2 separate regions of the Homo sapiens genome follow, and region 1 is linked to region 2. Evidence: fine-mapped expression QTL. A gene starts in region 2. The other region holds a variant in brackets. All regions are shown on one strand. Distances are from middle to middle.

Region 1 (8,809 bases), 400 kb after region 2:
GGCCTGGAGCCGAGCTTGAAAGTTCACAGTGTTGCTTGTGCAGAATCTCCCCCAGAAAGAGACAAGTGGCACAAGCCGTGACAATAATACGTGAGCCAAGTATGGAGACTTATTTCAGGAATGCAGCAATTGGATTAGGGTGAAAGATGAAGACTGGTGTCAAATGAGTCAAGATACTTGGGGCTGCAAATGGCAGACAGCCATGTTCAAACTTGACAAAAACCTGAGAAAAATGTATCATCTCGCTTGACTAGAAGTTGAGAAAATAGAACTCTAGGCACAGTAGAACTTAGGTTCAGTTTCTCTGCAGTTCTCTTGACTCCATCCATCTTTGGGTAGACCTTGTTCTGAGACCTCGTTTCCCACGTGGCGTCAAGATGGCTGCCTGCAGCCCCTGCAGCCAATGTGCTCCCTTCCTCATACCCAGAAAGGCAGGGAGAGGGAAGACAGTCTCTCTCCTACCTGCGAAAGAAACGCCCTTTTCTTCTCTCTCACTGAGCCAGCTAGAGTCACATGATCACTCCCGGACCAATAGCAGCCTGACTTCCTGAACCGGTCTCCAGCAAGAGCCTGTAGTGGAATCACCATGACTGGCTTAGACTAATCAAGATCCACCCCAGCAAGAGCTTCACCCAATCACATAGGCTGCAAGGAAAAGGGATGGATTCCGGAATAAATTTGGGGTACTGTGAAGAAAAAGGAAGGAGGGCAAGATGCTGAGCAAGCTACTATCTGTCCTCTACAGCTAATAAATCACTACGAATGGCCTATTGAATGGGAATATCAAAATCAGAACTGCAGATGGTATCCTGAAGAAAAAAGTGGGTTTCTATGATTGCTCCCTGCCACAAGCAACTCAGACGTGGGTTTGTAATAGCCTGAACAAACCTCATAAAGTCTGGGCCAAAACATTTAGGAGAAGGAGGAGAGAGAAATAAGTTGTTATAACCCAGATTTCACTTTGACTTTCTGTGAAGCAGAGACAAAATACAGATAGATTAGATAGATAGATAGATAGATAGATAGATAGATAGATAGATAGATAAATATATATATACACACACACACAAACACACACACACACACGCACACACACACACACAGGGATTCACTCCACGACCTTTTATTGGCCCAAACGATAGCTTCAGTCTTTTAATTACTACTGCCCAGGAAAATAATTCCTCTCCTTGGCTTCCTCTCTACTGCAGCTTACCCAGAATAGCACATGCTGTATATTTTTTCAGAAATGACAGAAATATTCGTGGTGCTTGGGTTAAGTAATTAAGATTTGCTGTGGGAACACCAAGGAACCCCATTAAAATGGCTGTGTAGCTTGGCAAATTAACTACTTAGTGTTTAATTACTAAAAATTACTATCAATTACTAAATGTTACTGCAAATTACTTGCAGAATAGACACATTTGTTTGTGGGTATTAATGATTTCAATTACTCCTCATAGGTAATTGGTTTCTGTGCACACACGGGTATCAACTGTCGAATAGGAGCTCAGCAATAAACATTGTTCCTCTTCTTTTAGCTCATAGCTGAAAAATTAAACACTGGGCCCATAGTTCCTCTAGGTTTCTGTGCTACTTAACATTGCTTGCCTGAGACTCCTAGGGCTGGAAAGGACCTCAGAGACCTCTTCCAGGGAGCAGAGGAGGAAGCAGGACACAGAGGTTAGTGGTTACTCAGAATCACACAGCCAACACTACAGTATAGATCAACATCAAACACTTTCTGCACAGTGAAAGGATCTAGTCACAAAAGACCAAAACTGCCTGATCCAATTTATACAAAATGTCCAGAATTGGCAAATCTATAGAAATAGAAAGTAAATCAGTTGCTGCCTGAATCTGGAAGGCGGGGGAAAGAGCTGGGGAGTGAGAAGGGACAATTAGGGGAGTGAGGAGTGACTGCTAATGGGCACAAGATTTATTTGGGGGGTAACAAAGATGTTTTAAAATTAGATTATGGAGATGTTTGTATAACTCTATAAATACTCAAAACCATTGAATTATACACCTTAATTGGGTGATTATTGTGGTATATAAGTTATATCTCAATACAGCTGTTAAAACAAGTATTTTTAATCATATAATTAGAGAATGATAGGGCTGGATCAAAGAGCTGATGCTCCTGACTCCCGCTTTATCGTTCTTTCCACTGGACCATCCTGCTTCAACAGATGCCAAGCTTGCTGGAATTTGTAACTCACTGAAGAAGATGGCCATTAAGACTCATTGTTGAAATCGTGGTCTTATTTATGAAGGGCTCACTTCCAGCTATTTGTGGATTATTAAGAGAGTATAAACTATGTTCATTAAAGTAGCATAAAATGCAACCATAAAATGCATATAATAACTGAATACCAAATAAAATGATGTCTTAGCTTAGAATATATTCATCATGCATAAAACAACACAGAACTTGTGACAAGGGCTTGCCAGTATGTAGTTTATTTGGGATGGCAATCCTATGGAATGGGTTGGAGGGAATGGGAAGAGTAAAAAGGGAAAGGAGAAAAAGTCAATCCCAGTGTGTATGACTGAGTTGATTCAGTAGTCGCAAATAACTGAGACTCAATCCCACCAGGCCCTTGAAGAGTTGTGTACCCTGCTTCAGAATTGTCCACAATAAGGAGAGGGAAATATTCATGCATTGGCTCCTTATCCACCGGTAAAGAATTTGCCCAGACATTGTTTAACTCCCTAGCTCTTCCACATGGGTATTTGAACCAGCACAACTGAGCAATATCCCACAGCATCCTCCAAGGTAGACACAGAGAAGCTCAAGAGCAGAAAGTAAGAGAAAAGTCACAAGGCTCTAGCCACTCTGATCAGACTACCTGTGCATGCAACCTGCTGTTGCAGTAATTGCCAAAGTCACAGGTAAGTAAGTCGGGAAGGTGTAAGATGGAGGGTCCAAGATGTCCCACATATTATAAGAGAAACAGAAGCTCATCAACCACTCTAAGAAGAATCAAACTGAGGAAAAATTGAATTGGCAATGTGGGACGAGAAACTCCAGTCTAGAATAGAGTTCACCTATGCCTGGAAGATTGGAGAGCTGAATGGAATTCTAGCCTTCCAGCACTTTGGAGGAATATTACATTGGCCAAAAAGTCCTGCCTATACTTCTTCAAATAACCACACTCAAAAATAATACTTCTGGCCAGGCAGTGTCTCATGCCTGTAATCCCAACACTTTGGGAGGCTGAGGTGGGAGGGTTGCTTGAGTCCAGGAGTTCAAAACCAGCCTGGGTAACATGACAAAACTCTGTCTCTACAAAACATACAAGAAAAAAAAATGAGCCGGGCATGGTGGTGCACACCTTTAGTTCCAGCTACTCAGGAGGCTTAGCTGGGAGGATCACCTGAACCCAGGAGGTTGAGGCTGCAGTGAGTCATGATCATGCCACTGCACTTCAGCCTGGGTGACAGAGTGAGACCTTGTCTCAAAAAAAAAAAAAAAAAAAAAAAAAGAATACTTCTATACCCCTCCTACTCCCCAGCATCCTCCAGTATTCTTAGCTATTATCTGCCCAATCTTATTCCCTGGAAATTTTTCTTTAGATCGGTCAGCTCAATACCAGTTTGTATTAGTCAGGTTCTCTAGAGGGACAAAATTAATAGGATACACACACACACACACACACACACACACACACACACACACACATATTATATATATATTTAAAGAATAGTTTATTAAGTATTAACTTACATGATCACAAGGTCCCACAATTGGCTGTCTACAAGCTGAGGAGTAAGAAGAGCCAGTCTGAGTCCCAAAACTGGAAAACTTGGAGTCTAGTGTTCGAGGGCAGGAAGCACCCAGCATAGGAGAAAGATGTAGGCTGGGAGGCTAGGCCAGTCTCTCCTTTTCACGTTTTTTCTGCCTGCTTTATATTCGCTGGCAGCTGATGAGATTGTGTCCACTAGATTAAGGGTGAATCTGCCCTCCGCAGCCTACCG[G/A]CTTAAATATTAATCTCTTTTGGCAACACCCTCACAGACACACAAAGGATCAATACTTTGTATCCTTCAATCCAATCAAGTTGACACTCAGTATTAACCATTACACAGTTCAATATCTTCGCTCAACTCCACACATGTCTTCCACACATTGGAGAAAGGACATCCCATCAATAAATGGCGATGGGACAAGTGGATATACACCTGCAGAAGATTAAAACTAGACCCCTGGCTGGGTGCAGTGGCTCACACCTGTAATCCCAGCACTTTGAGAGACTTTGAGCACTTTGAGGTGGGTGGATCACTTGAGGTCAGGAGTTCAAGACCAGTCTGGCCAACATGGTGAAACTCTGTCTCTACTAAAAATACAAAAAAAAAAAAAAAAATAGGCTGGCATGGTGGTGCACACCCGCAGTCCCAGCTACTCGGGAGGCTGAGGCAGGAGAATCACTTGAACCCTGGGGGCGGAGGTTGCGGTGAGCCAAGATCACACCACTGCACTCCAGCCTCGGTAACAGAGTAAGACTCTGTCATAAATAAATAAATAAATAAATAAAACTATACCCCTATCTCTCACCATATACAAAAATCAACTCTAAATAGATTGAAGACTTAAATGCAAGACCTGAAACTATAAAACTACTACAAGAAAACATTGGAGAAACACTGCATAAAATTGGACTGAGTGCAGATTTTTTCAATAAGACCTCAAAACCACAGGCAACAAAAGCAAAAATAGGCAAATAGGATTACATCAAACTAAAAAGCTTCTGTACTGGAAAAGAAACAATAGAGTGGAGAAACAACCTACGGGATGAGAGAAAAACTGTGTATCTAACAAGTAGTTAATATCCAGACTATATAAGGAACTCAAACAACTCAATAGCAAACAACAATAATCATCAGATTTAAAAAGGGGGAAAAGCCTGAATAGACATTTCTCAAAAAAAGACATACAAATTGCCAACAGATACATGAAAAAGTCCTCAACATCATTAATTATCAGGGAAATGCAATTCAAAACCACAATGAGATATCACTCTGCCCCAGTTAGGATGGCTATCATCGAAAAAACAAAATGTGACAAGAGCTGGTGAGGATGTGGAGAAATGGGAACTATTAGGTACTATTGGTAGGAATGTAAAAAAACTATAGCCTTTATAGTATAGTATGGAAGTACCTCAAAAAATTAAAATGTAAACTATTAAATGATTCAGCAATTTCATTGCTAGGTGTATATCCAAAAGAAATGAAATCAGTATATTGAAGAGATATGTGCACTCCTGTGTTTACTGCAGTGCTATTTACAATAGCCAAGATATGAAATCAACCTAAATGCCCATCTACAGAAGAATGAATACAGAAAATTTTATATATATATATATATACACACACACACACACACACACACACACACAATAGAACACTATTCAGCCATAAAACAGAATGAAATCCTGTCATTTGCGACAGGGTGAATGAACCTGGAGGACATTATGTTAAGTGAAATATGCCAGGCACAGAAAGACCAACACTGTATGTCTAGCTCATATGTGGAATCTTAAAACGTTGATTTCATAGAATTAGAGAGTAAATAGTGATTACCAGAGGCTGGGAGGCAGAGAGGAGAGTAATGCAAGAGGTTGGTCGATAGTTACAAAGTTACAGTTAGACTGAAAGAATATGTTCTTGTGTTCTATTGCACAGTAGGGTGATTATAGCAAATAACAATGTAGTGTATATTTTGGGAAAACTAGAAGAGTTTGAATGTTGTCACTGCAAAGAAATGATAAATGTTTAAAGTGATGGATCTGCTAATTACCCTGATTTGATCATTATACAATGTATACATGTATTGAAACATCACACTGTACCCCATAAATATGCATGCTTATTATATATCAATTACAGATTTAAAATTAATTTTTAAAGAGAAACTTAAAATGTTAAGTGGTGTATGAACCCAGAAAATCTCACTGCAGAACCTACACTCTTTTCCACTTGTACCAAGCTGCCTCATAGATGTCAGGGGGAGAACAACTGAATGTTTGAGCAAAGTTTAATGCAGAGGCTGTTTTACAAAGTTAGGAGAAGCATTAAGAGAAGTAGTGAAATATGTCAGGACAACAAGGGCTGTTCCCATCCCTTGGCTCTCAAGGCAAAGGAGGGAATAGCCGCCAGAAAGACACTAGAAAGTTATAGGTGACCGCAGCCCTGGTGAAGCTGTGGCCTTACACAGAGAGATCAACCTCTGCCAATCTGCAGGACAGAAGGAAAGAACCAAAGGAATAATTATTCCAACCTCTCTCTCTGATTTCCTGTTGGTGCCTCCCATCGGCTAAACCCAGGTAGAAACCAGAGGGCAAAAGGGCAAATTGAGACAGTCCCCAGAGGTCAATGTCCCTGGACTGAGAGCAAAGATTGGGGTAGAGAAGGATGTGGAAGACAAACAGAGGAGATGCAGCATGAAGTCTGAGCTAAGATCTAAGCACTGCTCTGATTTTAGCTCTCCAGTGTTTTTCCTCGAGGGGCTCAGAGTTGCTTTATACTTAGGCAAAGGGGACAGCTGTCCCAATCCGGTATCTAACTAAGAGGAGCCATACCTAAAAGAGGAGCAGGTGCAGTATCTGCCAAGGCCATCCCTAAATGACATCATCGAATGTTCTCATCTTCAGCACAATCAACCCAGCATGGCAATAAGGTCCCAGTTGCTTCCCCTAACACAGACATGCCTTTGAAGATCTGCCTCACTCTAATAATCGTAAATGACCCTGGGGAACAATCCCTTTTGAAAATGAGGCTGACCAAAACCTGTATTGGGTATATATAACAGTTCTGAAATTCCTCTCTAGTAAGCACAAAAGAGGACTTTCAGATCTTGTCTATACATACTAATATAAGCAGTTCCAATAAAGGTATTGGAATACAGGTCTTTAGGTCTTGACTATGCAGAACTAATTTAAATGGTTCCAAACCAAAAAGACTTGCAAGAAACTCTTCTAAAATACATCCTATAATTATATACATTTTTCCTATTCTAACTTAAATGAGTCAAAATGTGGAAGAAGTGAAAGAGTGACCTGACCATCGTGGTTTTATCTGAGCCCCAGAAACACCGAACAGGTCCCTAGCAAGCCAAGGCCTCACATGTGTCCGTTCCATGTTGACTGAGTTTGCACTCTAAACCAGGCACTGTGCTAAGCACGTAACTAGCAGTCACTGCTATAGCCCTCACAGCAACCCTAAGAATAAAGTACTATTTTGAATCCCATTTCATGAACAAGGAAACGGAGGCATGTGGTGATCAAGTCAGAAGTGATTCAGTGATCTTGTTCACTAGACTAAGATCACAGGAGTACACAAATGAAAAATAAGACAATGAATTTTAGCTGGGAACAGATGACACTGACAAAACAATCTGTGGGAAGTGAATGGCAATAAGAATTAAGGTTCCAATGGTTCAGAAAGTAAGTTATTGGGGTGGGTGGGGGCACTCAGGGGAGTTTTGCCCAGGGCGGTAGAAACCAGGCTGAGGACCAGGAGAAAGACAAGGAGGGGCAGTGGGTGGGGAAGACAGTGAAGGTGGAGTCTTGGAGAGGGGGTGGCCCTGGTGGACTTGACCAGGACAGTGAGGAGCTGGGCTCCTGCAGAAGTGTCAGTGGTGAGGCGGCAGATCAGAGAGGGGATCTTGACTGCCCTTTCCATCCTCTCCCAATTGCTGGCTCCCTGCTGTGGGTCTGTCTCTCTGCCTCACACATCAATGAGCCAGCCCTGATGCTCACTTCCCTGCCTCTCGGAGCCCTGTCCAGTCTCAGACTACACAATTCCCACTCCCTGCAGGCTCTGTCTGACGGGCTGTAAATAGCCTGTTTGAAAAGTAATTGCATGTTTGGGGCTGGTGCTTGCCATGTGTAATTGCTCATTCTTTCTCCAGCCACTTCCTCTCTTCCTACTTCCCAGGTTTGTTTCCCAGGATAGGAGCCTTCCAGGCAAGTGGCTGGAGGAGATAACGAGGCCCTCTGAGCCTCACGATTCAACCAGACTTTGCTGCCCAGGGAGCCACCCTGCACCGTCTACCTGCCCTAAGCAACGGGATAGAAAAGGGAGAATGGACTCATTCCTTTCTGAAAGATTCTCTGGGCATCATGGACTGGTACAAAGACATCTCCCCAGATCTAGGGCACATGGACTCTCTTGCCCTGGCACTTGGGCAGCACAGGCCAGCCCTCTAATGATGTCAGTCTTCTTGTCTGCTATACTTCTGATAGCCCCCTTCTTCCCTAAATCCCTCGGATCTCTAATACTCAGGATTAATTTACTGAACATCTACTATATGCCAGTCTGTCCTGAGAGCTTGTTTTGGTATATTTCCCCTCAAAGTTAGGCACAGCACAGAGGCACACAGTGACATAGCCCCACACCCTATACCTTACACCGCTGCCTCCATTGGCCTGGTCCTGCACAGAGATAGCTGAGCAGAAGTGAAGCAAGTCCTGCGGGTACCCAGCCACTTCCCATATGCACTGGGTCACACTCTAGCCATTGGCGCCCTCAAACAATGACTGAGAGGAGTTGATAAACAAATATCCATCCTCTCTTACCTCTCAGACAAGATAATCTTGAAGTGCTTATTCAACACTGGCTTCTAGATTGCTGTATTAGTCCATTCTCACATTGCTATAAAGAAATAGCTGAGACTGGACAATTTATAAAGAAAAGAGGTAAAATTGGCTCACAGTTCTGCAGGCTGTACAGGAAGCATAGCAGCTTGTTTCTGGGGAGGCCTCAGCAAACTTCCAATCATAGTGGAAGGCAAAAGGGGAGCAGGCATGTCTTA
Region 2 (8,809 bases):
GAGAAGATCATAAAAAAATCAGTAATGTCATCATGTCAAGCAAAGTTTCTGATGGTTTTTTTAAATTATGCATGTCTTTTATTTTTTTCCCTTCCAACATTGATCCAGAGCTTTCAGAGGGACATTAATCTACCTGACCACATCAGAATCCTTAATTATTCGCGTCCAGCAATATATCTAATTCTACAGAAATTCCCCATGGACTTGCCATTGTTGACGTGGAACCCGGCAGCTCAGCTCTGTCCATCTGCTCACCAAGCCCAGCCCCTCACACCCCTCAAAGACACAAGCTACCTCCCTGACTTCTTCTCTGCTTTGACACACAGATGCCCAAGCTTACAATTCAGGGAAGTATAATTTCTCCTAGTGTGATAACTGTAGAGGCGATTTCCCCCTTGCGGAAGGACAAACTGGGGCTGAGGAAAGGATAGTAAACTTAGGGATTGTGAGCCCTCATCTGCAGGACTCTGGAGCTGGAGACCTTGAGCAAGTTGTTCAGACTTCCGCCTCTGCTTGTGCCTTAGTCAAATGAACTCTGTGGCTGCCTCACTGACCTCAGTGCTGATGAGAGCCAATTAAAGTCATGGAAAGCCCATTTTAGACCAGCAGAGCCAGGGAAGTGCAAAAGAATAAAGAAAATACTAACGCTGGTAATGACAGTCATGAGAATATGAGATAGAGTCACTCAGTGGCCGGTAAGGCCTTTGCTGGAGAGAGTGGAAGCCTCTCCCAGTTACTGAGAGGGGCAGACAAGAGTGCAGAGCTTCATTGCATAGGCGTCTTTTAGTGGAGAAAACAGTTACTATGGTGATGCTTTGTAAAGCCTTCATGGGGCAGCTTTCCAATGCTCTCAAGTGGGTAGGGAGGGAGGCTAGGGCAGAACAGTTCAAATTGGCAGTGTGAGTGAGCTTAGATGCCCCATTCCTCTGTCCTCCACAAGGCGATGGGCAGGACAGGTAGGATCTCAAAATCGGTTCCATTCTGTGTCTCTGTCTCTCTCCTCTCTGGCTTACTCTGTATCTCCTCCCTTTTCCTCTCCCTCCTGTTCTCTTCTCCTTTCTTCCTCCCTCCTTTTCTCCAGTCAACACATGATCTGCTAAGTGTCACTCAACAAGCATTCTAGTGAGAGTTTTGACTGTGTCATTTGAGGACTGGAAATCACTGCTGCCGTTAGGGAGGCTTGGAGTCTAGTTCAGAAGAGAGGACTCATTCAGGGCTACTAGGGAGGGGTGAAGGATTCACCGCCTCAATTTCAGGAACCCACATTTGTCAGGGCATGTTTCTAAAATTATTTTTTACTATGACCTCAAAAAAAAAAAAACCTCTGTGAAACAAACAGTCAAGAGGTTTTGGGAATTTGGGTAGTTAACTCTAGAAGAGTTGAATTTGGACCCTCTGATATGGTTTGGCTGTGTCCCACCCAAATCTCATCTTGAATTGTAGCTCCCATAATTCCCATATGCTGTGGGAGGGACCTTGTGGGAGATAATTGAATCATGAGGGCAGTTTCCCCCATACTGCTCTCATAGTAGTGAATAAGTCTGACAAGATCTGATGGTTTTATAAGGGATTTCCCCTTTCGCTTGTCTTTCTCTCTTGCCTGCCACCATGTAAGGCATGACTTTGCTCCTCCTCACCTTCTGCCATGATTGTGAGGCCTCCCTAGTCATGTGGAACTGTGAGTTCATTAAACCTCTTTTTCTTATAAATTACCCAGTCTGGGGTATGTCTTCATCAGCAGCATGAAAACAGACTAATACACCCTCCAACAGGAGGGGAAGGCAGGCATTACTTGGTAGATGGGGAACTGACTACAAGCAAGGAAATGGTTGGTGCTGCCTGGGCCCATGCATCAGTGGACTGGAAGGCAGGAAGGAGAGAGGCTTTTATGGGGGCAGGGGAGGCAGGTCACCACGAAGAACCACTCAAATGTTCTCACCCTAGCCCAAGGTCAACAACTCATTTCCTAGTTCCTAGAATCCATATTCAGTATATTCTTGTAAGTGAATGAAAGAATAAATGCATGCAGGAAAGGCTGCCTTGAATAAAAGAGGTAGAACAGTGGAAGTACAAGAATTCGAAAAGCACAGCCATCCAAGGGCCGAAAAGTATTGTAGCTCTAGTAGGAGAAGTTTAATAGGGAGAGATGGCAACGCTAGCCCCACAATCGTGCCCATATCAACCCATGTTCATAGGAGAAACTGACCAGCAGTTGAAATTCCAATTCTGACTGGGGAGCTTAAAAAAATATTGATCTTAGCCTCAGTGACTGATTTAATTGGTCTGGGGTGTGGACTGGACTTTGGACATTTTAATAGTTCTCCAGTGATCCTAATGAACAGATAGATAGATTTGGGAATCATCAGTTCAGGAAGAAAATAAGACTAATTGAAACTAGGGTTTGTACTGGGAAGCCATGGTAGGGTGTTTTATTGAGTGACTTATAATAAACCCATTTTCTCAAGAAAATTATAGGTCTGGGAATGTAGGTTTGTTCTGAAAGGAAATGAGAAGTGTCAGCAAATAAATGGGTTCCACGTGTACAGCTAAGTTCCCGTGAAATCCTCTAAGGTCAGTCACATCCTTATATAATCCTAGGCTGGAGTCACAAGGTCAAGTCTCAGCCCTGTAAGGAGCCATAAGACTGCAAGTTAGCAAATGTTAACTCTTATTGCACACCTACTCTCTCAGACTCAGAGAGGGCCAAATCCACTCACACTATATATATTAATGTTCCCAGAAACCCTTAAAGGTGGGAACTCCAGAGTAGACATACTAGAGGCAGTGGAGTTCCAGTTTAGATGTCACTTCCTTAGAGGGACTTCCCTGAAGTCCAGAGAAGTCTTGCTTCAGAATTCTCACTGCTTTCCACTTGCTGAGAGCAATCTGCTAATGACTTCTAATTACCATGTTGTTGCCATCCTCATTGGAGTCCATGAGTGGAGAAAGCCGTGTGTTTTCTTCAACCTCATCTTGGTATCTCTGCTGCCTGACGTAAGGCTTGGCTTCGAGTAGTGGCTCTCTAAGCCTATATAAAGAGGAAGGCTACAAATAAATGAATTAATGAATAGATGAATGATTATATAGTTCCATGCACTGGCACGAATAGGAAGAGAAGCTATTCGGTTGGTATGGAACATATTCCTGGTGTCACAAATGACACTACAGGGGCAGCCACAGGGTAAAACTAAGCCGAATGAGTTTGTATCCAATGTGCCATTCTTTCCCATGAGTCCCTGACAGCCCCATCTTCCAGTCAGCACTACAGGGCCTTGTGGGTAAAGAAATGCACTTTGCTGCCCCAGGGGAGTGAGTCTGAGGCTCTTCAGGCAGCAGCTGGATTTGAAGGCTTTCTTTTCTGCTCTGGGATTAGGGGACCAAAGGACCCTGGACCACAGACTTTAAGGAGGCCCTCACTCTCAGGTGCTCACCCTGCCCTCGCATGCCCCTGAGGGCCAGCGCCTCCTTTAAGTCCTGCCTCACAGGCACCTGTCCTTTCTCACCCTAGTCCAGGCCTTGCTATGACTTCATAAAGAGCACACAGGACTTGGAGCCAAATGAACCTGGTTGCAGTGAGAGGTTTCAGCCCCCATCAGCCAAATGCTCTTGAGCAGGCCTCATCTGGAAAATAATGACTGTGTCTCAAAGGATGACGAAGAGGAATAAATGAGCAATGTGTTTCAATGAGACAGTATCGGTGAGTGAGTCTAATGCTATTTGAACTGGTTTATCAGTTCCATCGCATGCAGTATCCCTCTCGCCCCAGCCGTTCAAGAGGAGCAGCCACTACGATGGGTGGCAGGTGAGGGAGGGTCTGGGAGAGTCGCTGTTCCTAGTGGTGGCTGCGCTGGTCACCGTAGCAGTGCTCCATGTCCAGCCAGCACTTCTGACTGAAAGACCAACCACCTTCCTTTCTCTTACGGCATTCTGTAGTTCTGTCTGTCGCTTGCCAGGAACCTCCTGTCCCACCCACTTTGCCAGGTCTCTGGTTTCTAATGTAGGCTCCATCCTTTCTCCATTTAGCAGCAGAAGTGGGGCACGGCTTGGCGGCAGGGGTGGGTGCTGTGGCACTTCCAGTTCCACAGTCAGCTGTGGACCTGAGCTTTGCAAACTGCCAGGGGATAGTTCATTCACCAGCATTGAGTGGAACCATGACTGGCCACTCATCCGGTCACCATTGTCCAACTGCCGGCCCAGGCCGGTGCTGCAAGATCATCATCACCCCAGAACAAGAGGCATTTCCCTCTCTAACACCTCCCATCATCAGTGGTGTGCAGCAGCTCCACACTGCTGCCCATTTTCCCCTCTTAGAGTTTCCTTGCTGCCCTTCATATATTTGGTGATTTTTGCAGATAGTCCCAATTTCAAATACTCTCTCCCTCTGGAGCAAAGCTTGGCGAGCTCCTCACTCAACCCATCTTCTCCTTCATTTTGTTCATGCTGTCCCTTAGCATGGAGTGGCCCTAGCTCCCATCTGCCAAAGCTAGCAGATGCTGTCGGTGTCCCATTCACATCCCCTCGGGCTACCTGCCCGCAGTCCTCAGCTCTCTGTGTCTCTTGGCCTGAGAACATTCTCTGGCCAAGGGAATGTCAGAAAGTTCCTGACAGGAAGCACTGTCAATTCTATGTGGCACTGGAATGAGCAGATATACACCGCAGCTTCCTGGCCCCTCAGCAGGGTTGAGCCCAGCTGCAAACAAACAGGGGTGGCTTGCACAACAATGGACCCTTTCTGGGCCTTGCTGCCTGTCCTGACTCATATTCTCACTCTCTCCCTTGTGCTTGATGAGAACATCTGCGCATCTCTCAGGCAAACTCCTTTTGCCCAGCCTTTGTCTGCCTCTGGAGGCATTGAGGCTGGAACACCCAGGATGCTCATCCTCCTGGACCCATCGCAGCCTCAGCTCCTCCATGGCCTCATCTACGGGCCTTTCCCACATCCTGTGCCTCCTCCTTACACCAGCATGTCACTGAGACAGCGCAGTCTAAACTGTGCTTACATCCTGCTTCGGGTTACCTTGATGTTATTCTCCAGCTGGGAGGGGCCCACAACTTCTGCTCCTTTGGAATCCCCCAGCACTGGCACTGGCAGTGTATACATGGGGCCTGGGAACACCTTGATTGTAGGTATTCATGGAGGCACAATGCCCTGCTTAGGAGAAAGGCAATGGTGTATCTTTTCATCTGAATAGGACTTGACAGTTTAAAAGCATTATTACATTTACTTGCTACCGCCTTTGATTCCAACAAAGCACAAGTTTGTTACTTTTCTCATGTGAAAAGTGAGGTGGATGAAGCTGGAGGGGTGGTGAGTTCCTCATGGTCACATAGCTAAGTGTTTAGAAGCATGTCGTGAGCTCTTCCCCTCCAAACCTTGCCTCATTCCACGGTGCTGGCTGCTCCCATCTCATATGCAGATGGTTACACTGGGTCCTCACGATGACTCTGCAAGGCTGCTATTATTACACTCATTCTGCAGATGAGAAAATTGTGACTCAGAGTATAAATTGCTAAAAGACACTCGATCAGAAAGTGGCAGCAGTAAGACTTAAAACTCGGGGACTATGCTCCTATGTGGGAGAGAGAGTATGAGAGAAGCCTTCCCCTGATTCCTTCACCAGCCCTGCTTGTTGCTTTTCTAATGGTTTTGCACATGCACGGAGGGGGTTGGAAAAGGAAAAAGTGAATGTGACAATGTAGTCACTCTTTTTTGGAGACGAAGAAGTCTCGCTCTGTTGCCCAGGGTGGAGTGCGGTGGTGTGATCTCAGCTCACTGCAGCCCCTGCCTCCCAGGTTCAAGGAATTATCCTGCCTCAGTCTCCTGAGTAGCTGAGACTACAGGCGTGTGCCACCACACTTGGCTAATTTTTGTATTTTTAGTAGAGATGAGGTTTCACCATGGTGGTCAGGCTGGTCTTGAACTCCTGACCTCGTGATCTGCCTGCCTCAGCCTCCCAAAGTGCTGGGATTACAGGTATGAGCCACCGCGTCCGGCCAACAATGTAGTCACTCTTAATCCCCAAAATCGGTTCTTCCGGCTGGCTTTATGACGCCACGGTGTTTCAAACTTTTACTTTCTCTCTCTTCCAACACAACATGGCTTGTGGGTTCTGCATTTCTCCCTCCCCCACAAATTTCTACCATGCCTAAGACTGAACAGGTGCTTTCCATTATTGCTGAGTTTGCAAAAGCAGACCTCCCCTGTGGGACTGGCAGCAAGTGTTCCAGCCCCACCCCTGCAGGACATGATACTCACAATTCTCATCCACGATGGAGGAGCATTTCAAGCATTTTTTCTTTTTTGAGATGGAGCCTCACTCTCTCGCCCAGGCTGGAATGCAGTGGTGTGATCTTGGCTCACTGCACTCCCACCTTTCAGGCTCAAGAGATTCTCCTGCCTCAGCCTCCTGAGTAGCTGGGATTACAGGCACCTGCCAGCATACCCAGCTAATTTTTGCATTTTTAGTAAAGATGGAGTTTCACCATGTTGGCCAGGCTGGTCTTCATCAAGGTATTTTTGTTGCTTATACCTCTGTGTAAGTATCAGAGCCTTTCTTGGAAACAGTGACAGGAGTAGGCATTGAGGAAAGACAAAGGACTTGACTTCACATTTTTGTTTTGTTTGGTTCCCAGTAGGGTAGATAGGCAGTGAATGTAATTTGCCAATGAACTCTTTGATGAAAGCACTTAGCCACTGTTTGCTTGGCATGCCCAGAATTTAATCTTTTTTTTTCCTTAAAACTCCATATGGAATAATCCAGAGACCAATCAATTAGAGAAGTGTTTTCCACTGTAGTGGAAAAAGTATTTGAAGTCAGCTCAGCTGACTTGATCTCTACAATTTGTTCACTGACTTTATTATTTACTCAATGTGTGAGTCAAGGTAGGTCACTTAACCTTTGTGAGGCTCCACACCCTCATTGATAAGATGACAATAGCATAAAAAAGATTACAGCTGGTATAGAGTTGGTTCTTGACACATATTTGTTACAGGAATGAATGAATGAATTTCAAGGTTAAGAGTATTAAATGAGATAAATGTGGGTGAAATGCTGTAGATTGGCAACTCATCAATGTTTTTCTTTCAGTCTGGTTTAGAAAGCTAAAAGTCGGTAGGTACCACTGAAGGAGATGTTTATGTGGGGAGAGGATGTATGTGGGTTGGGGGTAGGGTGGAAGAGACTGCTGCAAGTGCTAAGTTCTGGAGGAAGAAGCCAGGTGGGAAATCACCTCTCATGGCCTTTAATGGCCTCTCCAGCCAGTGTCCCCAGCTCTGGCTGTCACTTCTTGACAGCCCCAAAAAATCCTAGGGTGAAAAGTTGTTTACATGACAACACTCCATCCCAAGTAAGAGATCCAGGCAGTCACCTTCTCTTCTTCCCTCCCCTTTCAAGCATCAAGTGGGGAGAAATCAGGTTTCTGTGTTCTCTCTCCCAGGAGGTAGCTGTGGCACAGGAAGGAGAGAGGGGATGCAGAGATCCTGAGTGGAGGCATTTCTTTGAGCTACTGACCTCCTGATTCCATTGCACAGGAGGCACAGCCAGAACGTCCATGACTGTAGCTTGGTCCCCATCGGGCTGGGTCTGAAGTAGCCATGGACACACTGTCTTCTCCATCTTCCACCCATATGGCAGCTGCTGTGGGGAGGGGGGTACCACGCCACTCCCATCTCATCTATTTGGTCTCATCCCAAGTGTCACTTCCTCTTGGAAGTCTTTCCTGACAGCCCCTCCTCCAACAGACTAAGGGGCTCTGGTCACGAGCATCCATAGCTGCTGATGGCCCCTTTCCATGGTTTGTAAGGACACTTTGACTGCACTTTTAAGCAAGAAACTTGTCTGCCTAATTTACAGCTGAAATCCTGGTGTCCAGCACAGTGCCTGGTACCTAGTAAGTTCTTAGAGCATGCTTGTGGAGCAACGAGGTCTGTAAATGCATCTACCACTCCTTCCCATCACACAGTCAGGATCACAGAAGGGACCATGTATCAGGAGTTAATGACAGTCGTCTCCAAAATGAACCTACAACCCACTCACTTGTAGATTACTTACGCTCTTGGTGACCTCAAAAGAATATTAGGGGAGTAAAGTGGTACAGTGTCTCTACAACATGAAGCTATTGGGTAATATTGCTACAGATTGAAAGTTTTCTCATGGTGTTTCTTTCAATCCAGTTCTTAAGATCTATGAGTAGCTAATATCAATTAATGTTTATTAAGAATTTATAATGGACTAGGCAGTGTGATAAATGCCTTCTGTGCATCATCCTCATTACATTGTCACAGTGACAATGACACGGAAGCACTACAGTATTTTCCCATTTTACAGATGAAGCTCCCGGGGCTTAGAGAGGTTAAATAACTTGCCTTCTCCCACCAGATCTTACATTCATGGAGCTTTCCCCTATCCAGAGGCACAGTGACCGAGATTGCCTTTTGAGTATCTTCAATGGCTGTACCTCTGTTCAAAGCAAGATTTATTGACGGAGCTAATCAATTAAGCAATCGTTATTTATTGAGTCCCTCGTGAGTTATTCAATATTTATTGAGCAGTCTCCATGTAGCTAGCTAGCACTTGTTCAATGAGCCATGGAGGATACAAGCGAGGTGTAGGATTCAGCCTTCATCTTCAGGGAGCTTGAAATCTAGCAGGGGATCGGAGGGGGGAGGTGGACAATATTAAATTACATGAAGAAATAAGTACTCACATTTTACATCGATCAGTGCAAATGACATATTATATTCAAAGAAAGAGAGGAGACAGAGCCTCTCTAGTATTAAATATAGTGTAAGATTCATGAAAACGGTGGG

Direction of the effects. Alleles are on the strand shown, and positions count from the first base shown. SD is a standard deviation of normalised expression in the study named.
With allele A in place of G in region 1, the expression in liver of the gene that starts at base 3,444 in region 2 is lower (large effect, 1.0 SD a copy in GTEx).

The links.
Region 1: its variant is fine-mapped to the expression of LINC02153 in liver (GTEx, PIP above 0.99).

Annotation. Positions count from the first base shown.
Region 1 is chr8:20,565,952-20,574,760 of GRCh38, reverse strand. No RefSeq gene overlaps it. Among named protein-coding and RNA genes, the nearest start is that of SNORD3F, 45 kb to the left of the region's middle. The variant G/A (reference allele first, on the strand shown) is at 3,979.
Region 2 is chr8:20,968,621-20,977,429 of GRCh38, reverse strand. It overlaps LINC02153 (long intergenic non-protein coding RNA 2153), which reads right to left and starts at 3,444. Exons shown (of 5, transcript NR_033894.1): 1 at 2,777-3,444. LOC105379316 (a long non-coding RNA gene) reads left to right here. Exons shown (of 4, transcript XR_007060845.1): 2 at 3,509-3,697. LINC03023 (long intergenic non-protein coding RNA 3023) reads right to left here. Exons shown (of 5, transcript NR_130774.1): 5 at 8,492-8,643.